2 separate regions of the Homo sapiens genome follow, and region 2 is linked to region 1. The links come from fine-mapping of genetic effects on gene expression. Tissue or cell type: whole blood. Region 1 holds a variant in brackets; the other region holds the start of a gene. All regions are shown on one strand. Distances are between the middles of the regions.

Evidence for each region. PIP is the estimated chance that this variant, and not a neighbour inherited with it, causes the effect.
Region 2: CDC26 starts here. The variant in region 1 is fine-mapped to the expression of CDC26 in whole blood (TOPMed, PIP above 0.99).

Annotation. Positions count from the first base shown.
Region 1 is chr9:113,206,010-113,211,253 of GRCh38, forward strand. FKBP15 (FKBP prolyl isomerase family member 15) reads right to left here. Exons shown (of 28, transcript NM_015258.2): 3 at 1,203-1,287; 4 at 500-569. Among named protein-coding and RNA genes, the nearest start is that of FKBP15, 13 kb to the right of the region's middle. The variant GCA/G (reference allele first, on the strand shown) is at 2,749.
Region 2 is chr9:113,273,237-113,278,344 of GRCh38, forward strand. CDC26 (cell division cycle 26) reads right to left here and starts at 2,336. Exons shown (of 4, transcript NM_139286.4): 1 at 2,146-2,336; 2 at 93-202. PRPF4 (pre-mRNA splicing tri-snRNP complex factor PRPF4) reads left to right here and starts at 2,422. Exons shown (of 14, transcript NM_001244926.2): 1 at 2,422-2,534; 2 at 3,312-3,489. The coding sequence starts at 2,508. RefSeq lists enhancers at 1,447-2,302, 2,070-2,409.

The DNA.
Region 1 (5,244 bases):
TGGGAAAAAGGAAGAAGTAGAGTTATTGCTTAATGGTTACACTTTCTGTTTGGGAAATGGATAGTAGTGATGGTTGCTCAATCAATACTGTGAATGCAATTAATGGCACTGGATTATGCACTTAAAAATGGTTAAATGGCAAATTTTATCTTATATATACATATGTATGTGTATATATATGTGTGTATTTGTGTATGTGTGTGTACACACGCACCCCACAATTGAACAACAAACAAACAAAAAAATGCCCAAATTCTTAAGCTAGGATCATATCACAAAGGTCAAATTTAACAATTTTGAATGGTTGGATTTGTTTTAACGCACAATAGTAAGCAAAATGTGATCATTTACTATATGCTTGATGTTATAAATTAACATTCAATACAAATAATCATCCTTATCTTCTGATAAACAAGACATCGGGCAAGCCAGATAAAAGCCAGCTCATTGGTATTATTTGGGACATCTGAATATACATGAGATGTGGGAGCACTCTCACCTCTCTGGCTGTGTGGTTCCCCAGAACTGCAGCACCAAATTTGCCCTGCTTTACATATTGACCATTTGTGCTATAAAAGGAAGAGAAACAACAAGTATTAATACTTCCCTAAATTCTGCAGAACCAGCTTTCTTTTCTGTCATACAGAAGTGGGAACAACAGTCATTCAGCCTCTAGGCAGGGACACAGGTGAGCGGTTTAAAATTTTTTTTTTTTTTTTTTTTTTTGAGACAGAGTCTCGCTCTGTCACCAGGCTGGAGTGCAGTGACATGATCTTGGCTCACTGCAACCTCTGCCTCCCAGGTTCAAGCAATTCTTCTGCCTCGGCCTCCCAAAGTGCTGGGATTACAGGAGTGCGCCACCGCACCCGGCCCAGCAGTTTATAATTTAAAGCTCATATACTATTCCCTTACTCTTTAAATATAAATATCTATCATTCATGCTATCTCAGTGGAGAGGCTTTCTTTGAGCATTTGACAGCTGTTGAGGGTACAAGCACTCCCTAAAGACAGTAGACAAGATAATGGCTTTTCAAGTTTTACCACAGAAATCTCCAATTCAGATGTTAAAAGTTCTACTGATATTTTGTCCGTGGAAGGGCTAAATAACCGTTTTGCAACAAACAGAGGTTTTTCGAGAAAAAGTAGCTTAACTGCACGCCCTTCCACCAAACTTCAGAGGGTGTTCCTTCTCAGCGACTTACTATCGATATGCATGGACTGCTGTTGCGACCAGTATTGTGGGAGTGCTCATGGTGGCTGGTGCTGTTTTTGGTGTTGCCTGATTTCCTGAAGATGAACAAGAAAACAAAGTTGTCATTCACTTCTTGCTTTAAACTAATTTTTTTTAAAGACGGAGTTTCACTTTGTCACCCAGGCTGGAGTGCAGTGGCGTGATCTCGGTTCACTGCAACCTCCACCTCCCGGGTTCAAGCCATTCTCCTGCCTCAGCCTCATGAGTAGCTGGGATTCCAGTTGCGTGCCACCACATCCGGCTAATTTTTGTATTTTTAGTAGAGATGGGGTTTCACCATGTTGGACAGGCTGGTCTTGAACTCCTGACCTCGTGATCCACCTGCCTCAGCCTCCCAAAGTGCTGGAATTACAGGCGTGAGCTACTGTACCTGGCCTTAAACTAATTTTTAACCACTGAACTAGCTTCAAAATTGATCTTTATAATTTACAGTCAGTGTTGTAATGCTTTTATGATTATCCTTATTTGATCCACAAAGCAGCCCTATGATCTAGTCTGGGGGTGAAGAAACTGAGGTTCTAATCACCCAAGTGCCTCACACAATTATACCATGATAGTGCCTAGGTCTGAAACCCATGACTCCAACTCCCAACCCACACACCCCAAATAAGTCTTTGGCTAGACAAGGAGTACTGTCTAAAAAGTGATAGTCCATCTATTTTATTTTCTCCTTCCAGTATTTTGACAGCTATAATATATGAAAATAAAGTTATTTCCCCTTCCCTGTCTTCTAGGGTGGGAAATTCAGTAAGATATTTAAATCACACCCATTAATTAACTTCACAAAGTACTACAGAGTAGGCTGGGCGCAGTGGCTCGTGCCTGTAATCCCAGCACTTTGGCAGGCCGAGGCAGGTGGATCACGAGGAGTTCGAGACCAGCCTGGCCAATATGGTGAAACCTTATCTCTACTAAAAATACAAAAATTAGCTGGGGGTGGTGGCGCGCACCTGTAGTCCCAGCTACTCATGAGGCTGAAGAGGAAGAATCGCTTGAGCCTGGGAGGCAGAGGTTGCAGTGAGCTGAGATCGCACCACTGCACCCCAGCCTGGGTGATGGAATGAGACTCCGTCTCAAAAAAAACAAAAAAACAACAAAAAAAAGGGACTACAGAGTAACACTAACATTTTCAAATACCATGTTAAGAGTAAATCACATTTATACTCACTATATGAATGTGATGGAAGAGTAGTGAGATAATACTGATGCGGACATGACATGCAAGAACTTATATTTTGAAAGAACTCGTTTGATTTTTTCTGTATTAACACTTTTTTTTCTGATTATAGAGTACAAGTGCATTGTAGGAAACTTAGAAAATACAGAAACACATAAATTAAAATGCAACATTTTTGTGTGTACTTCCAGTTATCTTCTTATAATAAATTCCTTAAAATGGAATTATGGGGTAAAGGAGTATAAAAAATTTAAGGTTTGGTTACATCCTGTCCAACTGTTCCTCAGGCTGGACGAGATGGCTCACACAGGTAATCCCA[GCA/G]CTTTGGGAAACAGAGGTGGGCAGATCACTTGTGGTCAGGAGTTTGAGACCAGTCTGGCCAACATGGTGAAACCCCATCTCTACTAAAAATACAAAAATTAGCCAGGTATGGTGGGTGCACCTGGAGTCCCAGGTACTTGGGAGGCTGAGGCATGAGAATCACTTGAAACACAGGAGGCAGAGATTGCAATGAGCTGAGATCATGCCACCGCACTCCAGCCTGGGTGACAGAGCGAGACTCCATCTCAAAAAAAAAAAAAAAAAAAAAATTCCCTTGAACAGAGAGGGACTTCTGTATTGCTACTTTATTTATTTGTAAATGCCTAAAGAAAACTGTATAGGCAATCTTGCTTCTATAGCTCCCTGCTAAAAGTGTAATAAACTCATAGTTGCTGTCTTCTGATTTAAATAATCAAGTTAGCCAGGTGCAGTGGCCAGGAGTTCAAGGCCGTAGTGCACTGTGATGGCACCTGTGAATAGCCACTACATTCCAGCCTGGGCAGCAAAGCAAGACTCTGTTTCTAAAATTAAGTACAATAAAAAATAAAAATAAAAAACCAAGTGTTTTCATTGGGTGGGAACTAAGGTTGTTTCTTTTTCTCCCATTAACTCAACCACTTTAACTCTGAAGCACACTGCTGATGAAGAGATGTGCCACAGGAAATATAAAAGCATAGCCTACTAGAAATCTGGCCAGGTTATGAGTTGGAGAATAAGAGAAGCACCTACAGCAAAACTGCCTAAAGTAATAGGTAATATTTAAAGCAGGGATCGGCAAACATTTTCTGTAAAGGGCCTATAGGCTGTGGTATAATATGAAATATGTTTGGTCTTTGTCCTTGGTTCCTGACACACTGCTCCCAAATCCCTTGTAATTTCCTGAGTGATAAGAGTGGTAGGAACATCTTTTGTATAATCCAATTTTAGCCAGCATGATAAGGAAGGAAGTCTTCTCTGCTTTAACCTACACAACAAAAGTAACTTTGAAATGACCAATTGTTTTTTGTTCTGTTTCTGCTTTCTTCAGCACTTTTCTGCCTATAAAGCCAACCTCCTCTGCTCAGCTCATCACAACATTCCATTTTATAGAATGAAGTGTTGCCCAATTCTAGAATCTCAAATAAAAGCCAATTAAGATCTTAAAACTCCATGTGTTATAACTGTATCTTTTGACAATGCTAATGAGGTGACTTAGAGTGGGGCCCTAGAGGGGTGGAGGCTCAGGATGGAGCCTACAGCTAACCTGTCCAGATAAAAGAAGTGAAAAGTAGGTCTTCCTTCTCACCAAAACACTGGACAGTGCCTACTTAGAGTGCCTTGGACAGAGTTTGGGAGAGCGGTGTCCATATGGGGCAGAAGGCCTTGCTTTCGAACCTCTCCATCAGTTCCCAACAAAGCGCACGCTATCTAGCTGCTAGAAATCAGGATCCCAGATCTTAGAGAAGCACTCACCACTGGGGGTGAGCTTAGCCAGACTGGTCAAGGATACACAACCTGGCATGTCACTTTTGGAAGGCTGCTAACCCTTCCATCTAACCTGTTAAGGCACAATCCTAGTGCCAGTTGTGATGGCTTTTTTTTTTTTTTTTTTTGAGACGGAGTCTTGCTCTGTTGCCAGGCTGGAGTGCAGTGGCGTGATCTTGGCTCACTGCAACCTCCGCCTCCCGGCTTCAAGCAATTCTCCTGCCTCAGCCTCCCAAGTAGCTGGGACTACAGGCAAGCGCCACCATGCCCAGCTAATTTTTGTACTTTTAGTAGAGACAGGGTTTCACCATGTTGGCCAGAATCGTCTCGATCTCTTGACCTCGTGATCTGCTCACCTCGGCCTCCCGAAGTGATGGCTAATATTTAGTGTCAACTTGATTGGATTGAAGTACACAAAGTATTGTTCCTGGGTGTGTCTGTGAGGGTGTTGCCAAAGGAGATTAACATCTGAGTCAGTGGACTGGGAAAGGCAAACCCACCCTCAATCTTGTTGGGCACTATCTAATCAACTGCCAGCGTGGCTAGTATAAGGCAGGCAGAAGAAGGTGGAAGGGGCTGACTTGCTGAGTCTTCCGACTTTCATCTTTCTCCTGCGCTGGATGCTTTCTGCCGTCGAACATCAGACTCCAAGTTCTTTGGCTTTTGGACTCTTGGACTTACACTAGCGGTTGGCCAGAGGCTCTCAGGCCTGCAGCCACAGACTGAAGGCTGCACTGTCGGCTTCCCTACTTTTGAGGTTTTGAGACTCGGACTGATCCACTACTGGCTTCCTTGTTCTTCAACTTGCAGACAGCCTATCATGGGGCTTTACCTTGTGATCGTGTGAGTCAGTTCTCCTCAATAAACTCACTTTCACACATACGTATATTCTATTAGCTCTGTCCCTCTAGAGAACCCTAATACACTCTTGTTTTTATTTTGTTTCAGTTTTGTTTTGTTTTTTGAGACAGAGTCTCGCTCTGTTGCCCAGGCTGGAGTACAGTGGCTCACTGCAACCTCTGCCTCCTGG
Region 2 (5,108 bases), 67 kb after region 1:
TTAATCTACCCTACATGAGAATTGTCAGAGATTTGTGATCACTCTTGAATGCTAAAATCAGTTTGCTAAATCTCAGGAAAACTCCAACTCACCAATTCACAGGATTATCCTCCGCGTCCAAACAGATCTTAAATGTGTACGTCATTCATTAAACAAACACTTCTTGTGTTCCAGCTACAAAGTTAAAAGGTACAGTCATAATCTGTGGGGAAAACAAAGAGAAAACTGTGATATCATGTAATGAGAACCCTGATGAGGATACTAGCACTGGCATCACACAGGCACCTAATCCAGTCTGGGCTGAGTGTGGGGTGGACAAGGATGTCAGGCAAGCCTTCCTGGAGAAAATGATGTCTTAGTTGACTTCTGAAGGTCAGGCAGAGAGAAGAATGCACAAGGAGGCTCAAGTACAGCTTTGGTAACGTAGCAAGACCCTGTCTCTACAAAAAAGTAAAAAAAATAGCTGGGCTGGTAGTGTGTACCTGTAGTCCTAGCTACTCAGGAGGCTGAGGTGGAAGGATCACTTGAGCCCAGGAGTTTCAGGTTGCCACCGTGAGCCATGACCTCACCATGAGACCCCAACTCAAAAAAAAAAAAAAAAAAAAAAAAAGGCTCAAGAGAGCATTCCACAGCCTGAAATCCCAAGGTAATACTATGTTAACAAAAACCATTTTGTTTTGTTTTGTTTTTGAGAAAACACAACCCCCCAACTGAGTTTAATATCTGTTGATGGCATCATTTGTATATTCTCCACAGCATCCCCTAGAGTGTATCTATAAAAACAGTCAGTAAATGTTTGTTGACTAGAAGGTGAGATCATTCTTGAGCACCGTGCTGTTTTTCCATTCCCATTCTTTACATTCTTATTTTAACACAAAAACCCTGTGAAGTTGACAAAATGATTCCTATTTCACACATAAAGAAGTCATCGAAGCAAGCTGTTCAGTTTGGTTAATAATTTTAGCCTCCTATAAAAATTATAAAGGTCAACATGATAAGCATTAAGTGAAAATGATGGAAGTGAAAACTCCTTGAAAGTATGTACAGATACAAATTATTACACGTATCTAGGATGAAACTAAGGACTGTGAAGTATACAAAGGAAGAAATAGTTCCTTCTCCCATGAAGCTTAGGATACTACAGGTGATATTATCAACACAAAACACTGGCACATTACATTTCAAATTCCTTTGTACTAAATCAGGCATTATCTTCTACCAGATTCCAATGCAGACAAATGGTAGAGAAAGCCAAAGTTCCAAAGAGGGAAAGAGAGGGATAGGGATACCTAAAAGGGGGAAAAAAAAATCTATACATTTTACCTTTTCTGCAAACTGCAAAAAACTGGCCACTAGGGAGCAGTATAGATTAACAGTTAAAAGTGCTGGCTGTAGAGGTTAAAGGGCACAGGTTTTAATCCCACTACACCACCGATCCTGAACAATTCGTTTCATTTCTCACTAGACCTTAGTTCCCTCATCTGTATCCTACTCTGCTGTTGTAGGAAGTCAATAACGTAATACAGAGTAAGCTCTTGGAATATTATTTGGCATTTAATAAATGTTCAATAAATAACATCTATTATTGCTGTAATTGTTCTAGGGGGTTGCATGAGGATCTGGCCAGCTAGGGAAACGTCAATATTTTGAGGATCTCCCACCGCCCATGTGGGGATAAAAACCTTATCCTGTTCGTCTCTAATGCCCCAGCATCCAGCAGGGCAGAGAGACGTACAGAGTTACCTGACACCTTCCTATCCATCATCTTACTCTCAATCTGATACAAAGACCAGGCTGAAGACAAATCAACAAAATCAGGCCGAAGCTCCTCCGCCGGGTCTTTATTTGACTTTGGCACTAGCGGGCTCTTCTAGCTTAATCTCCCGCCGCAGCCCAAATCCACCGCCGAGCCATCAAGCTCAGAGGGGGAGCCTGGGAAGACTTCCGGACCATGGAGGAGAACAGTCCTCGTCCCCTAGCTCCAGGCCTGTACCTCGGAGCCCAGGCAAGGGTTTCTATGGTAACATGGTCCTCGGCTCCAAGAAGACGTAAACGCCCCCGTACGCCCGGGGGGCACAGCGGACCCCGGAAGCCCTTGACTCGCTCCAGAGTTCAGCCCCGAGCCGCGCGAGTCGACTCACCTACCTCTTTTCAAGCCGGCCTAGCCCCTTCCCGGAACCTCGGCTCCCCCCCAACGAAACTACTGCTAAGCCAACTGGACTACACTTCCCAGACTGCTTGGAGCCTCTCTCTCCGCAGAACCTCGTCTTCCGCGAGCTTTTCCTGGAGGTTCTAGGAGGGATGCCCCTCAATGCCACGACGCCATTTCCTACTACGACTTCCATCATGCTCCGCGCCGCTCCGGGGGCGGTGACCCCTCTTGGCCCACGTCTTGTCAGTGACGCACTTCCTGTCAGTGACGCACTTCCCCTCTGCTGGGCGCGCGGTGGACGGTCTGAAAGGGAGTGTTCGGGTTTCGCTGGGGCCTCGCGGCTCCAGAGCCCAGCATGGCTTCCTCGCGAGCCTCTTCCACGGTACAGAGCCCGGGATCCCAGCTCACTCTGGCAGGGAGCGCTAAGGGGGAAGGGGATCTCTGCGGGAAGGGGCCGTTAAGGAGCGGGAGAAGGCGGTGGAGGGCTGAGGAGGAAGGCTGCGGGACTCAGCGGTGTCCTACACAGCGGACCACCGTTTTCCTGATCCCTAAGCGCTTTCGTGGACTGTAGCTTATTTGCACCTCTCCCACTACAGCCCCAAAGGGCAAGCATCTCTTCCGACTCATCCAGTAACGGTGCTCTGAAATAGGGAAGTGTCTTGGCCAAGGTTTATGCCTTTGGCAGATCTCAGAATTTTAATGAGACCTACTAACTCCTACTACCTCACGTCTAGGAACGTTTGAAATGTATACACTTGTAATGTTGTAACTTGTTATCCTTTAGCACCGCGTTGGTTATTTCATCTATCCTTAGTATTTCCCCAGTGATAAGCAGTAATCCGGGAAGCATAAAACACGAGATTGAACACTTCCAACGGAATGAAGTAAACAGATTTCAGAGCAAACCTTTCATAGGAAAATACCCGAGAGAACCTCACTAGTTTTATTAATCCCATCAACCAAAGTGAGGGACTGAAACACCCTCACCCTACCTTCACCTCCTCAAATCAATGAAGAGCGTCTTAAGTAGTGTCCAATTTGTCCTTTCAATTACAGAGGAAACAGGACTGTGAAACTCAGGGTGAGCTTCATCCTCTGGTGAAGTCCGGTAAATTGCCAAGATTAAACCTTAGTTTAATGCAGATCTTTGATTTAGCAGGCAACCAAAACTAAAGCACCCGACGACTTAGTTGCTCCGGTCGTGAAGAAACCACACATCTATTATGGAAGTTTGGAAGAGAAGGAGAGGGAGCGTCTGGCCAAAGGAGAGTCTGGGATTTTGGGGAAAGACGGACTTAAAGCAGGGATCGAAGCTGGAAATATTAATATAACCTCTGGTAAGATGCAAATTGTGAGCCCATCTTTACCTCTTTGTGTAATGAATACCTTTCTAAACTTAAATACCACAGTTTTATAATGTCAAAAAATTACAATTTTTTTTTTTTTAAACAGAGTCTCGCTCTGTCGCCAGGCTGGAGTGCAGTGGTGCGATCTTGGCTCACTGCAACCTCCGCCTCCCGGGTTCAAGCAGTTCTCCTGCTTCAGCCTCCCGAGTAGCTGGGATTACAGGCGCACACCACCACGCCCGGCTAATTTTTGTATATTTAGTAGATATGGGGTTTCACCATGTTGGTCTGGCTGGTCTCAAACTCCTGACCTTGTGATCCGCCCGCCTCGTCCTCCTAAAGTGCTGGGATTACAGGTGTGAGCCACTGTGCCCGGCAGAATTTCAATTCTTAAACTTGCAGCTATAAGGCTGTATTTTGCCTACCCCCTTATTATCATGCAGAGAGCCTTTTTCTTACAATCTGTTATATAGTTTTTCTTCTATGAGTGAGCAGTCTTATCAAAAATTCAGTGTACATTTGGATTCAGATTGATTCCATTTGTCTTCTGGAGATCTAACATAGTTCTGGCATTGGTTTGCAGCTAGAGTGGTTCATGATATTCTCCCTTTTGAAGTTTTGTAATTATTTTTTACCCAAAGTGAAATCTTTTTGTGTGTGTGTGTGTGTGTGACAGGGTCTCACTCTCTTGCCCAGGCTGGAATGCAGTGGCGTAACCTTGGCTCACTGCAACCTCTGCCTTTTGTGTTCAAGGGATTCTCCTGCCTCAGCCTCCCGATTAGCTGAGATTACAGGTGCCCGCCACCACACCCAGCTAATTTTTGTATTTTTAGTAGAGACTGGGTTTCACCATGTTGCCCAGGCTGGTCTCCAACTCCTGACCTCAAATGATCCGCCCACCTCGGCCTCCCAAAGTGCTGGGATTACAGGCGTGAGCCACTGCACCTGACTGAGCTATCTTTTTTTATTATAAAAGTAATAGTGGCCAAGCCTGGTGGCTCACACCTGTAATCCCAGCACTTTGGGAGGCTGAGAAGCGGGAGTCTGGCTTGAGCCCAGGAATCCAAGACCAGCCTGGGCAAATAGTGATACCCCATCTCTACAAAAAGTAGAAAATTAGCTGGGCATGGTGACACGTGCCTGTATTCCCAGCTAATTGGGGTTCTGAGGTGGGGGTTCAAGGCTGCAGTGAGTCATGACTGTGCCACTGCACTCCAGCCTGAACAACAGAGCGAGACCCTGTCTCAAAAAAAAAAGTTATTTTCTTTTAAAAGATCAATGTATAAATGTGTGAAGTAGAAAATCCTGTATTTTTAAAATTAATTGATTGTATATCTTTCTGAGAATTTTAATACAGCTAAAAAGTATGTAATTTTTTCCATAAATGAAAACACAATACGTAAATTGTTGTATAACCCCCATTTTTCATTTATATACCATTGAGGATATCTTTCCATGTCAGTAATGAGAGGTCTACTATATTTTAAAAATAAAATTATGCATATTTGTCCTAAGAAATTCAGACAATGCCAAAGGGCATAAAATGAAGACTCCTCTGCAGTAGGGACATCTGTCAGGTTTCTTATTGATCCTCCCACACATTTTCTAAA